2 separate regions of the Homo sapiens genome follow, and region 2 is linked to region 1. Evidence: fine-mapped expression QTL. Tissue or cell type: whole blood. Region 1 holds a variant in brackets; the other region holds the start of a gene. All regions are shown on one strand. Distances are between the middles of the regions.

Evidence for each region. PIP is the estimated chance that this variant, and not a neighbour inherited with it, causes the effect.
Region 2: TATDN1 starts here. The variant in region 1 is fine-mapped to the expression of TATDN1 in whole blood (INTERVAL, PIP above 0.99).

Annotation. Positions count from the first base shown.
Region 1 is chr8:124,592,402-124,602,634 of GRCh38, reverse strand. The region is part of intron 3 of MTSS1 (MTSS I-BAR domain containing 1); the gene reads left to right. Among named protein-coding and RNA genes, the nearest start is that of NDUFB9, 58 kb to the right of the region's middle. RefSeq lists an enhancer at 9,560-9,839. The variant G/A (reference allele first, on the strand shown) is at 5,450.
Region 2 is chr8:124,533,601-124,543,833 of GRCh38, reverse strand. It overlaps TATDN1 (TatD DNase domain containing 1), which reads left to right and starts at 4,749. Exons shown (of 12, transcript NM_032026.4): 1 at 4,749-4,809. The coding sequence starts at 4,788. It overlaps NDUFB9 (NADH:ubiquinone oxidoreductase subunit B9), which reads right to left and starts at 4,711. Exons shown (of 4, transcript NM_005005.3): 1 at 4,547-4,711; 2 at 555-747. The coding sequence starts at 4,647. RefSeq lists an enhancer at 4,819-4,888.

The sequences.
Region 1 (10,233 bases):
TTGTCCACCTACTAGCCTTTTGGGTTTTGCCCCTTGGTCTAGATCAAGCTTGTTCAACCTGCAGGCCTCACATGGCTCAGGATGGCTTTGAATGCAGCCCAACACAAATTTGTGAGCTTTCTTAAACCATTATGAGGCCGGGCATGGTGGCTCACATCTGTAATCCTAGCACTTTGGGAGGTCGAGGTGGGGGAATCACTTGAGGCCAGGAGTTCAAGACTAGCCTGGCCAACATGGCGAAACCCCATCTCTACTAAAAATACAAAACTTAGCCAGGTGTAGTAGTGCACACTTGTAGCCCCAGCTGTTTGGGAGGCTGAGGTGGGAGGATTGCTTGCACCCAGGAGGCGGAGGTTGCAGTGAGCCGTGATCACACCACTGCACTCCAGCCTGGATGACAGAGTGAGACCGTGTCTCAAAAAAAAATTATATATATATATATATATGTATATATATGAGATTTATTTGTGATTTTTTTTTTTTAGTAGCTGTTGTTTGTGTTAGTGTATTTTATATGTGGCCCAAGACAATTCCTCTTCCACTGTGGCCCAGGGAAGCCAAAAGATTGGACACACCTGGTCGAAATCTTTGGGTAAAGCATTGTCTTAGCTAGGGCATCATGATTGAACTTTTCCAGGCCTAAGAATTGAGCTTCCTCTTCTCTTATTAGAATTCAGGTTCACACTCTGATGCCATTTGGAAACACTCTTACTTTCCTTTGAAGACTGTGTTCTGTCACTTCACCTTATAAAATAAAAAAATCCTGAAACATGCCAGTGCGATTGCAGAAGAGGAGTGCCCAGCTTCATGGTCAAGTCTGACGCTCGTGTGTGCGTGTGTGCAGAGCTGTGTAGCCGTGGCTAGTGCTGGCCTCCAGGCATCCCCCGGGGCAGCAGATGGTGTACCCAGCCTTGCCCTGCTCGGTCCAGCCAGAGTGGCAGTGATGCACGCTGAGGCAACTTCTGTGATGCAACACCCGGGCAGTCCTCCAGCCCGCCGTCAAGGTGAAAAGACCCCTGCCAATTTAGGACTTCTGGGCTCTCTGAGAGCAGGGGCTTGAGAGGAAGGAGAGACTATTTTCTCATATAGTGAAACTAAAATATTACAACCTGCCATGAGCCATTGCAGCAGTGTCCCTAAGTGGCCCTGAGCGTCCCATGACACAGTCCCGAGCCCTGGATTTTGTAGGAGCTTTCCTTTTCATTCTTGGCTGGAAGGAAGCTGGTGATGCAACTGTTGTGAGCTCTGAAATATAAAAATTAACAGTCAAGGGGGCTGGGCACAGTGGCTCATGCCTATAATCCCAGCACTTTGGGAGGTCAAGGCGGGTGGATCACCAGAGGTCAGGAGTTCGAGACCAGCTTGGCCAACATGGTGAAACCCCGTCTCTACTAAAAATACAAAAAATTAGTCAGGCATGGTGGTGGGCGCCTATAATCTCAGGTACTCGGGTGGCTGAGGCAGGAGAATTGCTTGAACCCGGGAGGTGGAGGTTGCAGTGAGCGGAGGTCACGCCACTGCACTCCAGCCTAGGCAACAGAGTGAGACTCAAAAAAAAAAAAAAAAAAAAAATTACAGTCAAGGGAAACCTAGGGTCAAGGTCACTTTAAAAAGCTGTTCAGCCAAGGGCAACGGCCTTCCTGTTTTGAAGGGGTGGGGGCAGAGGATGGAGGCTCACTGGAGTTGGTTTTCATGAGCCTCCCGGTCCCCCAGCTTTCACTTCCCATTAAATAACCACGTTGTGGATGCGTAACAATTAATAAGTACAAACAGAACCTTCCAGGCAAGCCCTCTGGGCCGCTCCTTCTAGGCCTTTGGTCTTCTGAGATGTTTGGGAAGAAGGAATAATTCTGGCTTTCTTGAAAGCTGCCCTTTGCACTGTTCATTTGCCCTCTAAGTACTGATTTGCCAGCTCCTTAGAGAAAGTGGATATTAGATGTGGGAGGAGTGGGGGTCATGATCTGTTGTCCAGTGTGTCCTTATGGACAGATGCCCCAGCCCAGCCACATTTACTTACTCCGGCCTCTGCCTTCCTGTAGGACTCAGCTTATAGCTACATCACCGCTCTGCCTAATGGGAGCACTGATGTAACCAGTGCTCCTTATTTTCTCTGTAAAATATTCCAGCCCCTGCCTTCAGGAAGCTCACAGACTCTCTCTCTAGCATGCGCACACACACTTCTCACACCTGGGTTGTAGGCTTCACCAGCATCCGCTGTGTGCGCTTATAAACCTGTAAATGCCAGTTGCACATACTGTTGTTAAATAATTTAATTATAAGCTATGTAAATGTTTGCAGTGTGAATGTGAAAACCAAGATTTGTCATTTCTACAAAAGAAGTAGAATGTTTAGAAAGATATGATATTAATAAAAGTTACTTTTGCAAAAAAAAAATGCCATCGAATTAAGTATGGATGAGGCAACTGTAAAAGATTTGGGAACAAAATTTGTAAAAATCTAGGATATTCAGATTGCTTCACAAGAAGCCCGACATGGAAATCACAGATGATGCATTTTGGGTGTGATTTATGCAACAAAGATAGCATGAGACACTGGTCAGCATATTTGGTTTTTTTTTTGTTTTTTTTTTTTTTGTAGTACAACCATCTACGTTTGAGCCTACGCCAGGCAGACCCTTGCAAAGACCACACAGACAGCAAATGTGGGAGCTGGGCTTTGAAGCCACATTGGCTAATTTCAGAGCTAAGCCTTTCACCCTGTGGTTCTCTGCTTATCCTCCTGCTCATTTAGACGATAGTAAGGAGTCTCTGCTAAGACTCTAGATTAGCCATGGTGAGAGACACTGTTGCTACTGAAACTCTATGGCTTGCAGGCTGCGTGGAGTGTGCCTGCCATCCAAGTGTGTGGGAAAGAGGAGACAGATGGGAATACAGCTGCCAAGGAGCCCCAAGACCGTTTTGGAGGTCATTTGGGGGAGGAGGGGGTCACTTACCTCAATAGGTAAGTTTTTGGTGTGTATCTGTTTTAGAAAAAGATTCCTGATACAGTCACAGGCGAGCCTACACTCACATTTGTTATATTTGGTGTGTGTGGTAGTTATGTGCCCAGGAACCAAAGATTTCCACTTTACTTAGATCTTTCATTTCTTTTTTCTTTTTCTTTCTCTCTCTCTTTTTTTTTTTTTTTTTTTTGAGACGGAGTCTCATTCTGTCCCCCAGGCTGGAGTGCAGTGGCGTGATCTTGGCTCACTGCAACCTCTGCCTCCCGGGTTCAAGTGATTCTCCTGCCTCAGCCTCCTGAGTAGCCGGGATTACAGGCACCCACCACCGTGCTGGCTAATTTTTGTATTTTTAGTAGAGACAGGGTTTCACCATGTTGGCCAGGCTGGTCTCAAACTCCTGACCTCAGGCAATCGGCCCGCCTCGGCCTCCCAAAGTGTTGGGGATTACAGGCGTGAGCCACCGCACCCGGCTACTTAGATCTTTTAAACTTGAACCCTAGTGGGTACAGTAATCAATTTCACTGTGGGGGAACGGGAGCTGCTGTTCAAGCGCACAGGGTCCCTTCCATCAGCAGGCGGCAAGGGCAATGGGGAGGGAGCAACCACTGGTGTTAGGGTTCCAGCTGCTGTTTTGTAGACATCTTCAGGGACACTTTGGGGCTGGCTGTTTATTGCTGGTTGGTGTCCAGACAGAAGTCACAAGCCATTGAGTGGTTGGAGGTGGCTTTCTTATCCACCACCCATTCTTCCTCCACTTTCTAGCTGGGTCCCGTGAAGGAGCTCTTCCTAACCAGACAGCTGCGGCCTTAGATCCTGCTGATGCAGCTCCTCAGGCTCCCTCTCCTAGTTATTTGGGTATTTCCAGTATTTTGGGCTTGTACACAAGCTGCCCCTAGTTGAATTAATGCATCCCTAAGGCCATAGGAGAGGGGGTTAGTGCCTGCTGGCTTTGTGGGGAATGTCAGTTGTGTGTTTTCAAATTAGTGTTTCTTTAATGGCAAGTGGAACATTTTCTTCATTATGAGAACATGTGTTGCCTATTATCTCTGTGCTTATGAAGATGGGGGTAGGCAGTGAACTTAATAGCTTTTCAGAGCTTCTGCAGCGAGGGTTTGCGGGGAGGCCACTGGTGCAGTGAGCATGTCAGGTGGCTTCCCTGGAACAGCACTGGAAACAGTGAGCCCTCCTTATGGAAAAAGGATGCATGTTCCTACGCCAGTGCTCACCAGGGACGAGTTTGCCCCCTGGGGACATTTCTAGTTGTCATGACTTGAGGGATGTTACTGGCATCTAGTGGGTAGAGGCCAGGGAGGCTGCAAAACATCCTACAATACACAGGACACAAAAAATGATCATTCCTTTTTTTCTTGCTTTTTTCTTTTGAGACAGGGTCTCAGTCACTCAGGCTGGAGTGTGGTGGTGTGATCATAGCTCACTGTAGCCTTGAGCTCCTGAGTTCAAGCGATCCTCTCACCTCAGCCTCCTGAGTGGCTGGGACTGCAGGCATACACCGCCACACCCAGTTAATTATTTATTTATTAATTTATTTGTAGAGATGGGGTCTTGCTGTGTTGCTAGTTGGTATCGCTTAAAGCCAGAAGTTTGAGACCAAACTTAAGTGATCCTCCTGCCTCAGCCTTCCAGAGTGTTGGGATTATAGGCATGGCCATCATGCCTGGCCCAAAATGGTCATTATTGATAACAAAAAATGATCCGGTTCAAAATGTCAGCAGGGCTGAGGCCGAGATACCCCACTCTAGTGAACTCTCCTGCCCTGCACCCCTCTCCTGCAGAGATGCCTGAGAGCGTTCTCCTCTCCTCTGGTTCTGTCTGGCTCCTAATTAGCCTTCGAGCAATGTCAGCTCTCGGGAACAGCAGAGATGCACAGTGACTTACTGTGACGGCGGCACACTTTCACCAAAGCAGTTCTTCAGTCTGGCTTCCTCAGCCCTTCCCCTCCACGCTGCAGAAGCTGGGCCTGACAAAACGTCTTTTCAGTCCTCGCTCGCCACCTGCCCACACTGTAGCCCCCAAGAATGCCTGCCATTAGTCCCCTGCTATGCAGGGAGATGGCAGCTGCCTGCAAATGAGGCAGCTTGGAGGGACAGGACAATGCCACTCGAAGGACCCACCGTCCTGCCTGTCGCTGCCAGGTCTCTGCAGCAAGGGGCAATCTGACTTCGGACTTTAGGGGGCAAGGAAACTTTGCTTTTCTTATTTCCTCCCTACCCCCCCAAATATGCATTAAACAATTTGTATTCTGTTTGTGACTTTAATGTGCCTCTTTGTCCTCAGCTGGGAATGTCTCCAGCTTGTCGTAGTGAGAGAGAGCCCTTGGTATCCGTAGAAGCAGGCTTGGATTTTGGCTCTACTGCTGACCAGCAATGTGGCCCTCAGCAAGGTTGTTAACCCTCCTGAGCCTCAGGTGTTTTCATTTGTAACATGGGGCTGATAATGCCTACCACAGAGGGTTGCTGTCAGGACAGT[G/A]TTCCCTGCACCATTTTATCTGTGTCCATCCAACCAATCTTTGTAAGCTGCTCAAGGGCCTGGCACCTGTCTTCACCGTCCTTGAAATCACGTTAGTTTTTGCTGCACGGTAGGATGTGGGCCGTGGACTGCGGCGCACCCCCAGAAAGATAGGTTGATGTCCTAATCCCTGGCGCCCGGGAATGTGACCATTTGGACACAGGGTCTTTGCTGATGTAATCCAGTTAGGATGAGGTCATTAAGGTGGGCCCTAATCCAATAGGACTGGGGTCTTTATAGGAAGAGGGAAATTTAGACACACACACACAGGAATGCCTTCACACGTGTCTTATGGGAAGATGGACACACACAGGCCGTGAGCCTAGCACAACAGAGGCAGAAATTTGAACAATGCAGCTGCAAGCCAAGGAATGCTGGAGTCACCAGCAGCAAGGAGAAGGCAAGGAAGGACTCTCCCTGTAGGTTTTAGAGGGAGCACGGCCCTGCCGACATCTGGATTTCAGATTTTTAGCCTCCAGAACTACGGTTGCTTTAAGCCAGCCAGTTTGGGTTGCTTTGTTACAGCAGCCCCCAAAAGCCAATACAAATACTCAGTGGACGCTTGTGGATCGTGTGTCTTCATATGCAAAATGTATGGTGCTGGGCCTCAGCAGTCATGCTTTGGCAGCCCAGCCCCTGGATGGTTCACTTCTTCCTTTCCACTGATGATTCCTTCACAGATCACCCACAGATCATACTGGCTGATTTTGTGCTGCTTTATTAGAAAAGCATTTGCTTGTTATGGGAGAAAGTTTTTACATGTACCACGTTGAATCGGGTTATGTTTTTGCCATAAAGTATTTGTGCCTCTCTAAGCAGTGGCATCAAGTGACCAACTTAGATTTCTTTTAGCAACACGTTGGTTCCTGGTTCTGGGAAGAAGCATGAGAGGCCATTGCTCCTTTCTTTCTTCTCCTTTCAAGAAGCAGAACCAAATCAAAGTGGCTCTAAAAATAAGAAAATGAATATGCTTGCAAAACTGGGGTGCCAGGCCCAGAGGAAGAGCAGGTTCGGGTTGGTGGCTAAGGGACATCACTGGAGACTCAGGCCCTTTCTCTTCTGTCCACAGCAGTGTCATCCTGAGGCAGGTGTCCCCATGGCCATAGGATGGCTGATGGCAGCAGCTGCACAGTCTGCTTCCTTGTTTGTGGCCTGTGGAACCCTTTGGTGTGTTTCTCTTAAGATCAGGAAAACATTCCCCAGAGGCCTCCCCAGCAGCCTCCTCTCCATGTCTTTGTCCCATCCCTGAAGCAGCCACTGCCAAAGGGGATGGAGTTAGCATCATGGGCCTAGACCGATCATGTGAGGGCGAATGGGTGCTGCAGTCAGCCACAGTGCCCTGCCACACTCTCCAGATTCACAACTCTTACCTTTTTTTAATGGCCATGATAAGGATGCCCCAAAGATGTCCACGTTCTAACCCCTAGAACCTGTGAATGTTACTGTACGTGGCCAAAGGGGTCTCTGCTGATGTGTGGTGATGTGGTTAAGGGTCTTGAGGCAGGGAGGTGATCCTGGATGATCCAGGTGGGTCCCACATAATCACAAGGATTCTCATAAGAAGGAGGCAGGAAAATTGGAGGCGGAGAGAGAAGATGTAAGGACAGAAGCAGAAGTCAGAGAAGGGAGTAGATTGCACCGCTGGCTTTGAAGATGGACAAAGGGGCCACGAGCCAAGGAGTGCAGGCAGCCTCTAGAAGTGGGAAAAGGCAAGGAAATAGATTCTCCCCTGCAGCCTCCAGAAGGAATGCCAGCCCTGTGGTACCTGACACCCTGATATTAGACCAGTGAAACTGATTTTGGACTTCTGACTTCCAGAACTATAAGATAATAAACTTCTGTTGTTTTAAGCCACTAAGCTCGTGGTCATTTATTACAGCAGCAAAGGGAAACGAATACAGCATTGTATCTCTAGGCTGACCAGGAATCAATATAGAACTTTGCTAAGATTAAGCATCTTGTTTTTATTTTATATCTTTTAAACAAGTATGTGGGGATTAAACAAGATACAAACCCAGTCCCTGGTCCTGCCTCCAGATAGGGCCAGCCTGGTGGTTTGCTCTCAAAATGGTAAATGTCCGTTCCTTTATTCAACACCAGTGCTAGGTACCGAGAACACAGAAGTAGGGCCTTGTCTTCACTCAAGCTGCTGTGTGTGCCTCAGCCAGCCATTTGTTTCCACAAATATGCCCACTCGCAAATGGGAGCTCTTCCAGATGTCTTCTGTCTTTGTAGCTCAAGCCAGTTTCCTCTGAAGCTTATTCAAACCTGCTGATTTTTGTTTAAGTTCTTGCAAGGGTTAGGAAGAGCATAAGATGTTAAGCACTTCCACAGATGGACCTATTTTTAGGGTGCCCCATGTTGCCGAGATCAGCAGTGATTCTAATAGCTCAGTCCTGGGGTCCACAGAGGATGTCATCTGCCTCCTGTCTTCGTGCCAGTTGGACAGAGACACTGCTGTTTGGAAGTTTTCTTTGTGGTTCTTTATTTCCTCTCCTCTCTAGGGCTTCCTGTTCTACAGAGGCACATACATTATGTCTAGAAATTGTTTTTATTGTACCATAGTTCAGCTATTTCCTTTCCTTTCCTTTCCTTTATTTCTTTTGTTGTTGTTGTTGAGACAGAGTCTCAGTCTGTTGCCCAGGTTGAAGTGCAGTGGCGCAGTCTCAGCTCACTGTAACCTCCACCTCCTGGGTTCAAGCGATTCTCAAGCTACTCCTCCCAAGTAGGTGGGATTACAAGCATGTGCCACCACACCTGGCTGATTTTTGTATTTTTAGTAGAGATGAGGTTTCATCATGTTGGCCAGGCTGGTCTCGAACTCCTGACCTCAGGTGATCCGCCCGCCTCAGCCTTCCAAAGTGCTGGGGTTACAGGCGTGAGCCACTGAGCCCGGCCAGTTCATCTGTTTCTGAGAAGCCTTGGGCTTTCCTGGGGATAATAAGTGACCAGTGGCAATCTATGGGAAATACCTGGGAAGGTGACAGAAGCAGTGAAGCAGAGAAACGGAGTGGGGGCACTGACATTTGAGATGATCTTTTCCAACATCATAATTCTATCTTGAGGAAACTGAGGCATGAATTATCCATGAAGCAGCTCTCCATCCCTGAACTCCCTATAGTAGCTTAGCAAGGATGGAGCGCAATCCCTGTTGGTACTGATTAGACAGGGCCAGGCTCTAGAAGCAAAATATGAGAGCTGGCTTTAAAGCACCAACACCCGTAATAGCGTGTAGACCAATAAGTTTGGTGTACATTGTTCTAGGCTCTCGTCTCTGCTCTGTCCCATCTCCCTTTGTCCATCACAAGTGCCATATACCTGAGGGGATAAATGCATTGACGCTGGAGCTTAAGCCTAGGTTTGAGTTCCACTTACTAGTGACATAACCTGGGACAAATCACTTGGGCATTTTTCCTTTCTATAACATGGGATGGTCACAGTACTGATGCGGCTGGAGGTGCTGCGAGGATTAAATGAGTTGAAGTGTGCAGAGTACTCACAGCAGTGCCTGGCACATCCTAAGCGCTGTACGTCTTCCTGCAACCTTAAACGTTGTTCTCCAGTGTTTTAAATTACCACGTGCAATTCCATCGCATGGTGGTGCTCTATGGTTGATTTAACCAGATCCCTGTAATGGGATTTTGTTTCCAGTCTTTTGACGCTGTGAACAACATTTCGATGACTACCCTTGTAGGTAAGGACTTTCTTTCACTCTTAATCATTTCCGCAGGTTAAATTTCTGAAATGAGAATTGCTGGGTCAAAGAAAAATATTTCAAGGCTTTTCTTGATAGACGCTACCACATTTTGCTCCAGGAAAGTAGTAGTTTACACTCTTACCATCAGTGAGTGAGTGTGCCAGTTTCCTTGTGTGGCCGGGTTATTAACTTTTAATCAAACGAAGGCCCAGAAAGAAATAGGAAATATTTCCCGGGGAATAAAACGTTCCTCGTCTTTGCTTATATGCAGTAAAAAGCTCAGAACTTGGAGAGCGCAGAAGGCGGGGCAGAGTGTGTGAAAACGGCGCCCTCTGCTGGCTCTCCCTGGTGTGAACAGTGGTAGATGGCAACGCTGAGATGGCCGTGGCATCCCCTGCTCTTTGGAGGCAGGTACAGTTTTAAGAGACTCTGGTCATAAAAGTCAGATTCGGGCAACACTTGGCCCTCGCTTGGGTTCTTTTACAGCACTGGTTTCAACAGGAGTGATTTGTTGCCCAACACTTGGTACTCTCTGGAGACATTTTGGAGGATCACAAGTCTGGAGGTGAGGTTAAAGGAAGTCTGCTGTTGACTTCTGGTGGGTAGAGGCCAAGGATACTGCTAAACATCTCACACTGCACAGCCCAGTCCAGCCCAGCAACAAAGCAACATTCAGCCCAGGATGTCAACATTGTCCAGATTGAGAAAACCTTGTTTTTAGAGGAATAGAGGCCTTGCCCTCAGAAGGTTTCTCTCTTCAGACTGAAATAAAATATAGAAATATTAATATACGATATATATGTCACAGTTACTATTATTTGGTTGTAGAAACTTGATGGTTTTGCAAAATGAAATGGAAAACATGTGGAGCTGAAATAGTAAATGGGGATTTCTAGAAGAGAGGGCACAGGAAAATCCAACCCATAGTAATGTCACGAGTACTAATAAGAGAGGGAATGTTCTTCTACCAATTCAACATGGTTAAACCTGCCACAGATCCCTGTGGCTTTCCCCTGAAGGTCTTGTCTGTTAAAAATAGTGCTTTATT
Region 2 (10,233 bases), 59 kb after region 1:
GTCGTTAATTGTCCTAATTTCACTGTTGCTGCGTCTTAGGGAATAGGGAACCCTGAGGAGAGGGATAGAGGCGGAGGAACTATTGGTCGGTGAAACAGTCAGCACACGCACATTTATCGATTAAGTCTGCTGTCTTATGTGGGCATGGTTTTTTTGTGCCCCAAAACAATGACAATAGTAACATCAAAGGTGACTGATCACAGTTCACCACAACTGTGTGTAGATAGAGTAATAATAAAAAAAAGTTTGAAATATTGCAAGAATTGCCAAACTGAGAAACAGAGACAGGGAGTGAGCACATGCTGTTGGAAAAATGGTGCCCACAGACTTGCTCAGCACGGGGTTGCCACAAACTTTCAATCTGTGAAAATACAATATCTGCCAAGCACAATAAAACAAAATGCAATAAAATGAGGTAGGCCTGCATCTGACAACTGTCAGGAAATAAGTCTCCTAGCTACCCCTTGAAGGGCAAGTGATTTCTGAGGCTGAGGTGTGGGACTGAAGAAACAAAGTCTATTTCTCAGAAGGCAGTCATCATAATTCTCACCTACCTTGTAGCAATCGTATCTCTCATAGGAGGTGCCCCCAGGAGAGTCAGGGAAGATGTATGGCTGTGGATGCTGACGGTACCAGAATTCTTCCTCGGCCTCCTTCAGCAGCTGGGTGGCCTTCGCCATATCCTTTTCATTCTTATGTTCTTCAAACCGGGCTCTCATCAAACAAGCAAAGTATCGGTATTTGTCTCTTAAACCAAAATGATTTTGAAGATTAGAAATGTTACCTACTCACGTGGTCAGTGTTGCTGTCTGACAGGAGGCTGCACTTCTGATACCTTCTGGATGGGCAGTGGACCTACCCCAACCCTCCCAATGGAGCAGCCGTATCATCATGGCTGCTTCCTCTACAGCCCACCAAACAGCAGCAGCAAAAAAATACTGTATTAAATATATACCCTAACCATTTTTCTCCTCTTACATCCAACAATGGAATGAGGATTTAAACAAAAAAAAAAAAAAAAAAAAAGAAAAGAGCATTCGCAAGAGAAAAGCTATAACCTCTGCAGGATCATTCAACATTCATTGAATGACAACTTCCATTTCCTTCTATCTTGTGCTAGTCACTATGCTAAATTCTGGAGATACAAAGATGAATAAGAAAGGTGTTACTTGGCAGAAACAGTATTGCTTAGCTCATACAGAGCTAGGTTTGTATCCTGACTCTGACACTAGCTGCATAAACTTAGGCAAGTTAAAGTCAAGTTCTAAAGAAACTGGGCAAAGATCAGTTAGGAGGTTTTGACAATAATCTAGGACACAGCTGACGAGGGCCTGAAAGTACGGAGCTGTGATGGTGACAGGAGACAGGGGAGACATTGAGACTTCCAAGTTATGAGAATAGGCTCTCCAGTCAGACTGTATGGGCCTGAATCTTAGCTCTGCCACTACTAGCTGTGTAACTTGGGGTAAGTTACTGTCTTCTGGTCAGGTGCGGTGGCTCACACCTGTAATCCCAGCACGTTGGGAGGCCAAGGCGTGTGGATCACCTGAGGTCTGGAGTTCAAGACAAGCCTGATCAACATGGAGAAACCCCGTCTCTACTAAAAATACAAAAATGAGGCCGGGCATGGTGGCTCACGCCTGTAATCCCAGCACTTTGGGAGGCCAAGGCAGGGGGATCATCTGAGGTGAGGAGTTCTACACCAGCCTGGCCAACATGGTGAAATCCCGTCTCAGCTAAAAATACAAAAACTAGCCGGGCGTGGTGGCAGGCACCTGTAATCCCAGCTACTCTGGGGGCCAAGGCAGGAGAATAGCTTGAACCCGGGAGGCAGAGGTTGCAGTGAGTCGAGATTGTGCCATTTGCACTCCAGCCTGGGGGACAAGAGCGAGACTTCATCTCAAAAAAAAACAACAACAACAACAACAAAAAGGCCAGGCACGGTGGCTCACGCCTGTAATCCCAGCACTTTGGGAGGCTGAGGTGGAGGTCACCTGAGGTCAGGAGTTCAAGACCAGCCTGGCCAACATGGCAAAACCCCGTCTCTACTAAAAATACAAAAATTAGCCAGGCGTGGTGGCGCATGCCTGTAATCCCAGCTACTCGGGAGACTGAGGCAGGAGAATTGCTTGAACCCGGGAGACGGAACTTGCGGTGAGCCAAGATCGCGCCACTGCACTCCAGCCTGGGCAACATAAGCGAAACTCCGTCTAACAAAAAAACAAACAAAAAAAGTCTTCTAGGCCACGGGTTCCTCCTCTGTAAAACAGTGGCAATAACAGTGTGTATATCTTAAGGTTGTCATAAACAGTCAATAAGATAAACACACTTTAAAAAGTGCCTGGTACATCCCAAGTGTTAAATAATGTCAGTTACTAATATCATACTGGAAAGAGAATTTATAAAAACCAGTGTCTAATTATACATGGTGTATGAGTATGTGTGTTATTGGCAAAGGAATAAGGAGCAAATACTTGAGAACAATTCTGAGACTTAAAGCTCAGTAACTGAATTACTAATAATACCATTAGCGGAGGCAGGGAATTTGGGAAAAGAGTCAGAATGGGGAGTGACAGGAAAACAAGTTTGATTTCAAAGAATTTAGATAAATGGAGATTGAGAGAACGGTTGGTGATCTTTTCAATTTTTTTTTTATTATTATTTTTTGAGACAAAGTTTCACTCTTGTCGCCCAGGCTGGAGTGCAATGGGGCTATCTCGGCTCACTGCAGCCTCTGCCTCCCAGGTTCAAGCGGTTCTTCTGCCTCAGCCTCATGAGTAGCTGGGATTACAGGCACCCACCACCACGCCTGGCTAATTTTTGTATTTTTAGTAGAGACGCGGTTTCACATGTAGGCCAGGCTGTTGAACTCCTGGCCTCAGGTGATCCACTCACCTCAGCCTCCCAAAGTACTGGGATTATAGGCGTGAGCCATCATGCCCAGCCAACAGTCGTGATCTAACAAGCAATTCGAACTACAGCTCTAGAGACAAATGAGCGCAGGTGGTGACAGCACTAAATGAGGCTGCCCGAGTACATACAACAACACAGTATGCCTAGGATGGAACCACAGAGAACAGCACAATGAGGGCAAATGGAGGAAGAAATTAAGGCAAGGATTGAGAAAGAATGTCAGATCTAAAAAATGCTGAGCCATAACTGTCATAGTAGCTAGTTTATATCATTTTCCTCTAGAACTATGGACTTTAGTATTCCCAGCTATAGTTCAGTATTGCTTGAATTCTTTTTTTCATGTTTAACTTTTTTTGACACATAATTATTGTACCTATTTATGGGGTACATGTGATATTTTAATACATCCATATAATGTATAATGATCAAATCAGGGTAATTTGGATATTCATCACCTCAAACATTTACCATTTGTGTTGGGATACCTGAATCCCTGATGGCTCAACTTCCTTCATCATCGATTTGTTTACATGTCCATTTTCCCCACTAATCCGTGAGCTGCTGCTGCTCAAAAATGGATTTACTAACATTTATATATTTAGCATAGAGCATAGAATCTGAATTGCAAATTCTGTCAAATCAATAAATAAATAAGGAAAACTCAAGGAAGAAACTAACAATCCCATCACATTGTACTTGGCCATCTTCCTGCCAAATCAAGAGAAGTATGTCAGTGATTTTCTAATAGTCACATATATGCAATCTGGGCTTCGAGGGTACCCTCTGTAATTCTTCCAGGCCTACTCCATTTTCCATAGAGTTTTTTTCCCAGAAGGCCTTCTTATAAAACTACGTTTGGAGAGTCGTAAGACTGGAGTGGAGGCGAGGCACTCACACATCTTGGGTTGTTAGCCCACCCTGCAATGAATTTAGGTGATTAAAATCTACACATTTTAACACTATGTTCTCAGACTAGTCTCAGACGGATAGAGGTCGAAAGAGAATTATGTAAGAGGTGAAAAAGATGTAAAGGTAATGAAAAGGACTAGATGAAGCTAAAAAGAGAAAAGCTAATGGGAGGGGTGGGAGAATGATGATGCTTTGGAGAAAGACCTAAATTTTAACCCTGGCTCAGACACTTAGAAACTCTATCACCTTGCGCAAGTTACCAGCTGTGCTCATCTTCTTATCTGTAAAATAAGCTTAAGATAATTCCTAACTCCTAGAGTTTTGCAGACTGAAGAAAATAATGCATAGTTTATTGCTGTTAATATTGGAAAGGAGAAGATCGTGAAGAAAACGATTGAGCGAGCGCTGGACCCATGACAATTACAATTTTAGGCACTTTCCTTTATTTCACTTAATTTTCCTGCGACCCTCTGCGCTGGTCGTGCGTCCGTTTTACTAAACAAAAAGCTGACGCCCAGACCCGACAAGCAACTCTACAAGGTCTCCCGGCCATAAGTGGCGAAGCCTGGATTTGAACCCGGGTCTACCATAGGATTCTGTGAAGCGAGAGGCCACCTTCCAATTCCGTTCCCGAAGTCCTTGAACCTCCAGGTACCCAGGGGCCTCTCCACCTCCATGGGGCCCCGAGGGTCACCTCCCCGAGTCCTGGGTCCCCATCCCTTACCTCTGGACGCACCACGACTCGAGGTGGCGTAGCGCCCGCTTATAAAGCCGCAACACCTTTTGCTGATGGGTCAGGTAGGGTCCCGACGCCAAGAACGCCATTACGGCGCTGACCTTCCCCGGCCGCGCGGAGAGCCGGGAAACTGCACGCCTGCTGCGGGTGACTGAGCGGGGCCAGCCGGAAGGGCGGAGTTGCCGGCGGCCACTTCCGCTTCCGCTGGGGAGGTCCTCCATGCGCAGTCATGAGTCGCTTCAAGTTTATCGGTAAGAGGAGCGTTTTCCACGCCCTTGGGTCTTTCTGACTTGTCCCGGGCGTCGGTCACCAAGGTCACAGGACCCAGGAATTGCGCCCTCCGGCATTGTAAGGGTTGAAAGGGCCGCTCAGTGGAGGAGGGCGCGGGGAGGTTTCTGGGTGCTGGTAATGCTCTGGTTCTTGATCTAGGTTCTGGATTCACGAGGGTGTATTTATTTGTAAAAATTAACAAGCCGTACAGTTATGATTTTTGTGCTGTTTTCAACATCTGTAATGTATTCAGTTTTTTAAGAAGAAAACTCCAAAAAGGCCAATCACTATGTTTCCATTCATCCCACGTGCACCTCCCGGCCCTTCCCCTCTGCCTTGGCGGAGAGGCTGACCGCTTCTGGGGACCAATTCACTCAAGCATTCATTCGTTCATATCATAGTTAGTGAGCGCCTCAAGTGGGCCTGGCACTGGCCTAGGAACACAGGGCACAAAGCTCCCAGTTGTACTGTCATCACCATCTGGTGGAGAAACTAGAAAACACAAGTAATGGGGAGAAAAACAAACTGTACTTGGCAAGTACAATGATCCAGTCGGCATCAGTAGAACGAGAGGGAGAATGCTGCGGGATTTAAATGGGCATGATCCTCGTTTTGTGGGGTTTCCAGCTACCTGAAGGTGGGAAATGACAGTGATCACACCTCTGCTTTAGCAAGGTAATCCTGATAGCTATTATGTAGGTTTTGTGGGAAATAGGGAGAGGTAGGGAAGCATTTCAAGAGCTTAAACTAGGGTAATGGAAAAGAGAGAGAAATGGAAGAGATGTGTGCAGCATTTAGCAGCTGAGTGTTCATGGCCGGTAGTAGAGAGTGAACAAAGATGACTCAGGGTTTGGAAAAGTACTTAAATATGAAATGGAAGCATGACTAGTTTGGCGGTGAAGAGAGGTACCCAGGTCCATTTGGATTAGGTTAAGTTTGAGATAATTATAGGACATCCAGGTAGAGATATCTGGGCAATTGGGAATGTGGTCTGGCAATCAAGAGATTAGGATTATACATTTAGATCTGAGAGTTATTTAAGCAGTATTTTTTTTTTTCAAAGACGTTGTGCTAAGTCCTGTGGAACTGTAAAATCTAGTGGTGCAGTTTTCAGACTGGAGACCTAAGACCTATGTACTGTACAGTCAAAAGCAAATGCAGGGGAGAATATGTTAAGTGCCAGGAAAAAGGTTTTGAAATTGCTGTGGGAAAGCCTGGAGTAGGGGTTTGGGGAGGGGTTGTCAAATAAGACATTGCCGTGTCTTAGCCTTTCCATCCTAACCTTTGATATAATTGATGAGGGAGATGGAATAAAGAGCCATGAAGTACTCCGTAAAGAAAGGCCACATAACTTTTTAAAAGTGTGTTTATGTTATACAACCAAATTCCTGCCTCAAGTTAATGTCTTAAATCCATCCTCCATGTAGACTCCATTTTGGTGTATCTAAAAATCAAATCAGCTAAATGTTTCTTTTGCTTCAAATCTTTCATTTACGCTCCTCAGGATAGCCTAAATGCTTACACACCATACAAAGCCCTTCTGTGGTCCAGTCCTGCCCACTTTTCTAGCCCATCCCTGGGCTGCTCTATAAACACTTGTGCATGCTGTTTGTTACCTCTGACAAGGTTTTAGAGTGGCAGTTTGGGGCCAAAATATTCCTCTGCCTACCAACTACCCTGTTGCCTGTCTGCCTACTCACTCCTTAAAACTTATACCACATTATTTATAATTAAATATGAGTATGCCTTTCCCACTAGATCAAACTCTTAAGGCAGATACTGGTATGGTATTTATATTTTTTTCCTAGGGGCGTAGTACAATGACTGTTTGGGAAAGTATGAATGAGTGGCTTTAGTGCTAAGGTGATAAGAAAATTAGTAAAGGGATTAGCATCAGATAAAATAAGCAAGAAAAGACTTCTTAAAGAAGGTGACTTTATTGGAATAAATAATTGAAATAAATTTTTTTCTGTATGGTTTCCTTTAGCCCCACTCTCCTAAAGTAACCATATTAAAAGTTTGAAGTATAGCCTTCCCTAATTTTTTAATAGATTGTTATACAGATTCATAAAAATACAACATATCAAGGTTTTTTTTTTTCCTTTTGAAACAGAAATGAGATCATATTATGCATTCTATCCTTGGTATATGACTTACTCTGATATTTAATCTTTCAGTTTGTGTCATTTAAAAAATTCTGCCCATGAATCGCTAGACTAATTTCTTAGCCTAATAATGAGTTCTGAACAATATTTTGAAAAACATCATATTAAATCCCTGGAACAAGCTTCACATGGGACAATTGCATGAAAAATTGAACCCATTTTATGAAAATTACCTTAGATTTTGGTTTAAGACAGCTGACCATTGTAATTCTTTCTACATTTCTCTCTTTTCTACTTGCATAACAAGTGGCTGCCCCTTAGAACTATACCCCAACAGTGGGGGTTTTTGTTTGTTTTGAGACAGGGTCTTGCTCTGTCACCTAGGCTGGAGTACAGTGGCTTAGATCATGGCTCCAGCATTGACCTCCTAGGCTCAAGTGATCTTCCTGCCTCATCCTCCCAAGTAGCTGAGACTAGAGGTGCTCACCACCATACCAGGCTAATTTTTTTTTGTAGACCACTGTGTCCTGCTATGTTGCTCAGGCTGGTCTTGAATTGCTGGCCTTAAGCAGTCCTTCCACCTCCGCCTCCCAAAGTTCTGGGATTACACGTGGAGCCACTGGCCAGCATGAGAATTTCTTTAGCCCAGCTTATACTCTCTTTTCTGTCTCCACAAGTGGAATTCTATTCCCTGGGTGTTATTTACAAACTCTTCCACTCTCAAAAATACTTCTACCTGTAACTATTATATGCCAGAATCTCTACTGCATTGATCTTAGACTACATAGTACACCAAAAAATGAGAAATATCTGTGCAAGAAGAAAATGCAAAATACAAACAACAGTGAAAATAAAAACATCATATTCCATTCCTGATATAGTTTAGATATTTGTCCCCTCCAAATCTCATGTTAAAATTTGCTCTCCAATGTTGAGGTGGTCCAGTGGGAGGTGTTTGGGTCACTTCCCAACATCCATCTCATGGGGGTGGATCCCTCATGAAAGGCTTGATGGCCTCCCTGTGGTAATGAGTTCACACTGGCTCCCCTTCCCTTTCCACCAGGATTGGAAGCTTACTGAGATCCTCCCAAAAGCAGATGTTGGTGTCATGCATCTTGTACAACCTGCAGAACCATGAGCCAAATACACCTCTTTTCTTTATAAATCACCCAGTCTCAGGTATTCCTTTATAGCAATGCAAAAGCAGATTAATACAGTTCCTCCAAATCACACATAACACCACCATGTCTATCTTTCCAGATCTTCTGTAGGCATACCAAACAAAATAAGATCATACTGAGGCTACTCTTTTGTGCTCTGCTTTTTTCAATCACAGTCTCCACCTTTCCATTTCAGGAAATGTTCATCTTAACTAGTACCAAAATCATACTCAAATTTTTCCTGTTGTTCCAAAAATGTCCCTTGGTGGTCATGTCCAAAATGGTATCCCATTTAGAGCCACACATTTGGTTGTTCCTTAAATTTTTGAATCAAGTGCAGAGGTTTGCAAACTTTTTCCTTAAAGGGCCATATAGTAAATATTTTAGACTTTGAGGGCCACGTGATCTCTATTGCAGCTATTCAACTCTGCCCTTTTGTGTACTGTGATGTAATAGTAAATACGTGTGTGTTCTCTGCTCCCATTTCTTTGTGCACAACTCCTGAAACCCTTGGAATCTCCTAAGTGCTAAGTGTCTTTTTGTATGCTGCTAAGATGACTGATGGCTGGGGGCTCCTGGATAGCCTCAGGATGGGGGTTTGCCTAGGAAAACCCATCATGTGATTAGAGAGTTGGAAGTTTCAGTCCCTCCCACCCACTCCCACTTCTGGGGAAGGGGAGAGAAACTGAAGGTTGAGTTGTTCACTAATGGCCAGTGATTTAATCAATCATACCTACATGGTGAAGCCTCTATAAAAACCCATACATGTCTCTATGTGTCTCTTCCACCTGGCCGTTTTTGAATGGCATCTTTTTACAATGAATGGGTAATAAGTAAAGTGCTTTCCTGAGTTCCGTGAGCTGCTCTAGCAAATGATCAAACCTGAGAAGGGGGTTGTGGGAACCTCTTATTGTAGCCAAGTTAGACAAGTTGTGGGTAACCTGGGAACCTACTGCTTGTAATTGGTATCTGAAATGGGGAGAGTCTTGTGGGACTGAGCCCTTGACCTCTGCGGTCTGATGTTATATCCAGGTAGATAGTGTGAGAATTGAGTTAAATTATAGGTCACCCAGCTGGTGTCAGAGAATTGGTTGTTGGGAGAGGAAACCCCACACATACCTGACGTCAGAAGTGAATCCTCACGCCTGTAATCCAAGCACTTTGGGAGGCCAAGGTGGGAGGACTGCTTGAGCCCGGGAGTTCAAGACCAGCCTGGGCAACAAAGTGAGACCCCATCTCTACTTAAAACAAACAAACAAAAAATTCAGAGTATTGTGAGTATGAGAATACTGTAGGAGAAAGCAGTTTGCATTTTTTCCTATCTCACACCTTGTCATTCAAAAGCAGGTGATAGACAGTATGTAAATAGGTGTGGCTATGTTCCAGTAAAACTTACGGTCACTGAAACTTGAAGTTCTTATAATTTTGATGTGTCACAAAATATTCTTTTGATTTTCTTCAACTATTTAAAAATGTAAAGTCATTCTTAGCTTAGAGGCAAACAAAAGTAGGCAGTGGCTTGTGGGCCTTAGTTTACCAATCCCTTGCTCTAGCGCATTTCTTTTTTTTTTTTTTTTTTTTTTTTTTTTTTTTTTGAGACGGAGTCTCGCTCTGTTGCCCAGGCTGGAGTGTAGTGGTGCAGTCTGGGCTCACTGCAAGCTCCGCCTCCCAGGTTCACGCCATTCTCCTGCCTCAGCCTCCCGAGTAGCTGGGACTACAGGCGCCCACTACCACGCCCGGCTAATTTTTTGTATTTTTAGTAGAGACGGGGTTTCACTGTGTTAGCCAGGATGGTCTCGATCTCCTGACCTCGTGATCCTCCTGCCTCAGCCTCCCAAAGTGCTGGGATTATAGGCGTGAGCCATCGCGCCCTGCCACACATTTCTTTTTTTAATGTCACTGACTTACCAAAGCAGCTGTGCTGGTTGTGCCTGTGAAATAAAAATAAAATTCTAAGCCCCCTAAACTGGCTGAACAGAACCCCCCTCGACCAAGTAGACCCCAGAAAAACATGAAAAACTAAGATTCCCAAACATGACAAGATGAGGGGTTGGTCCTGGTCTCCTTCCTTACTAACCAATACCAGACTTTTTTCCTACAAGTTGAACAGAAACCAGCCCTGGAAAAACAAAGATTGGAA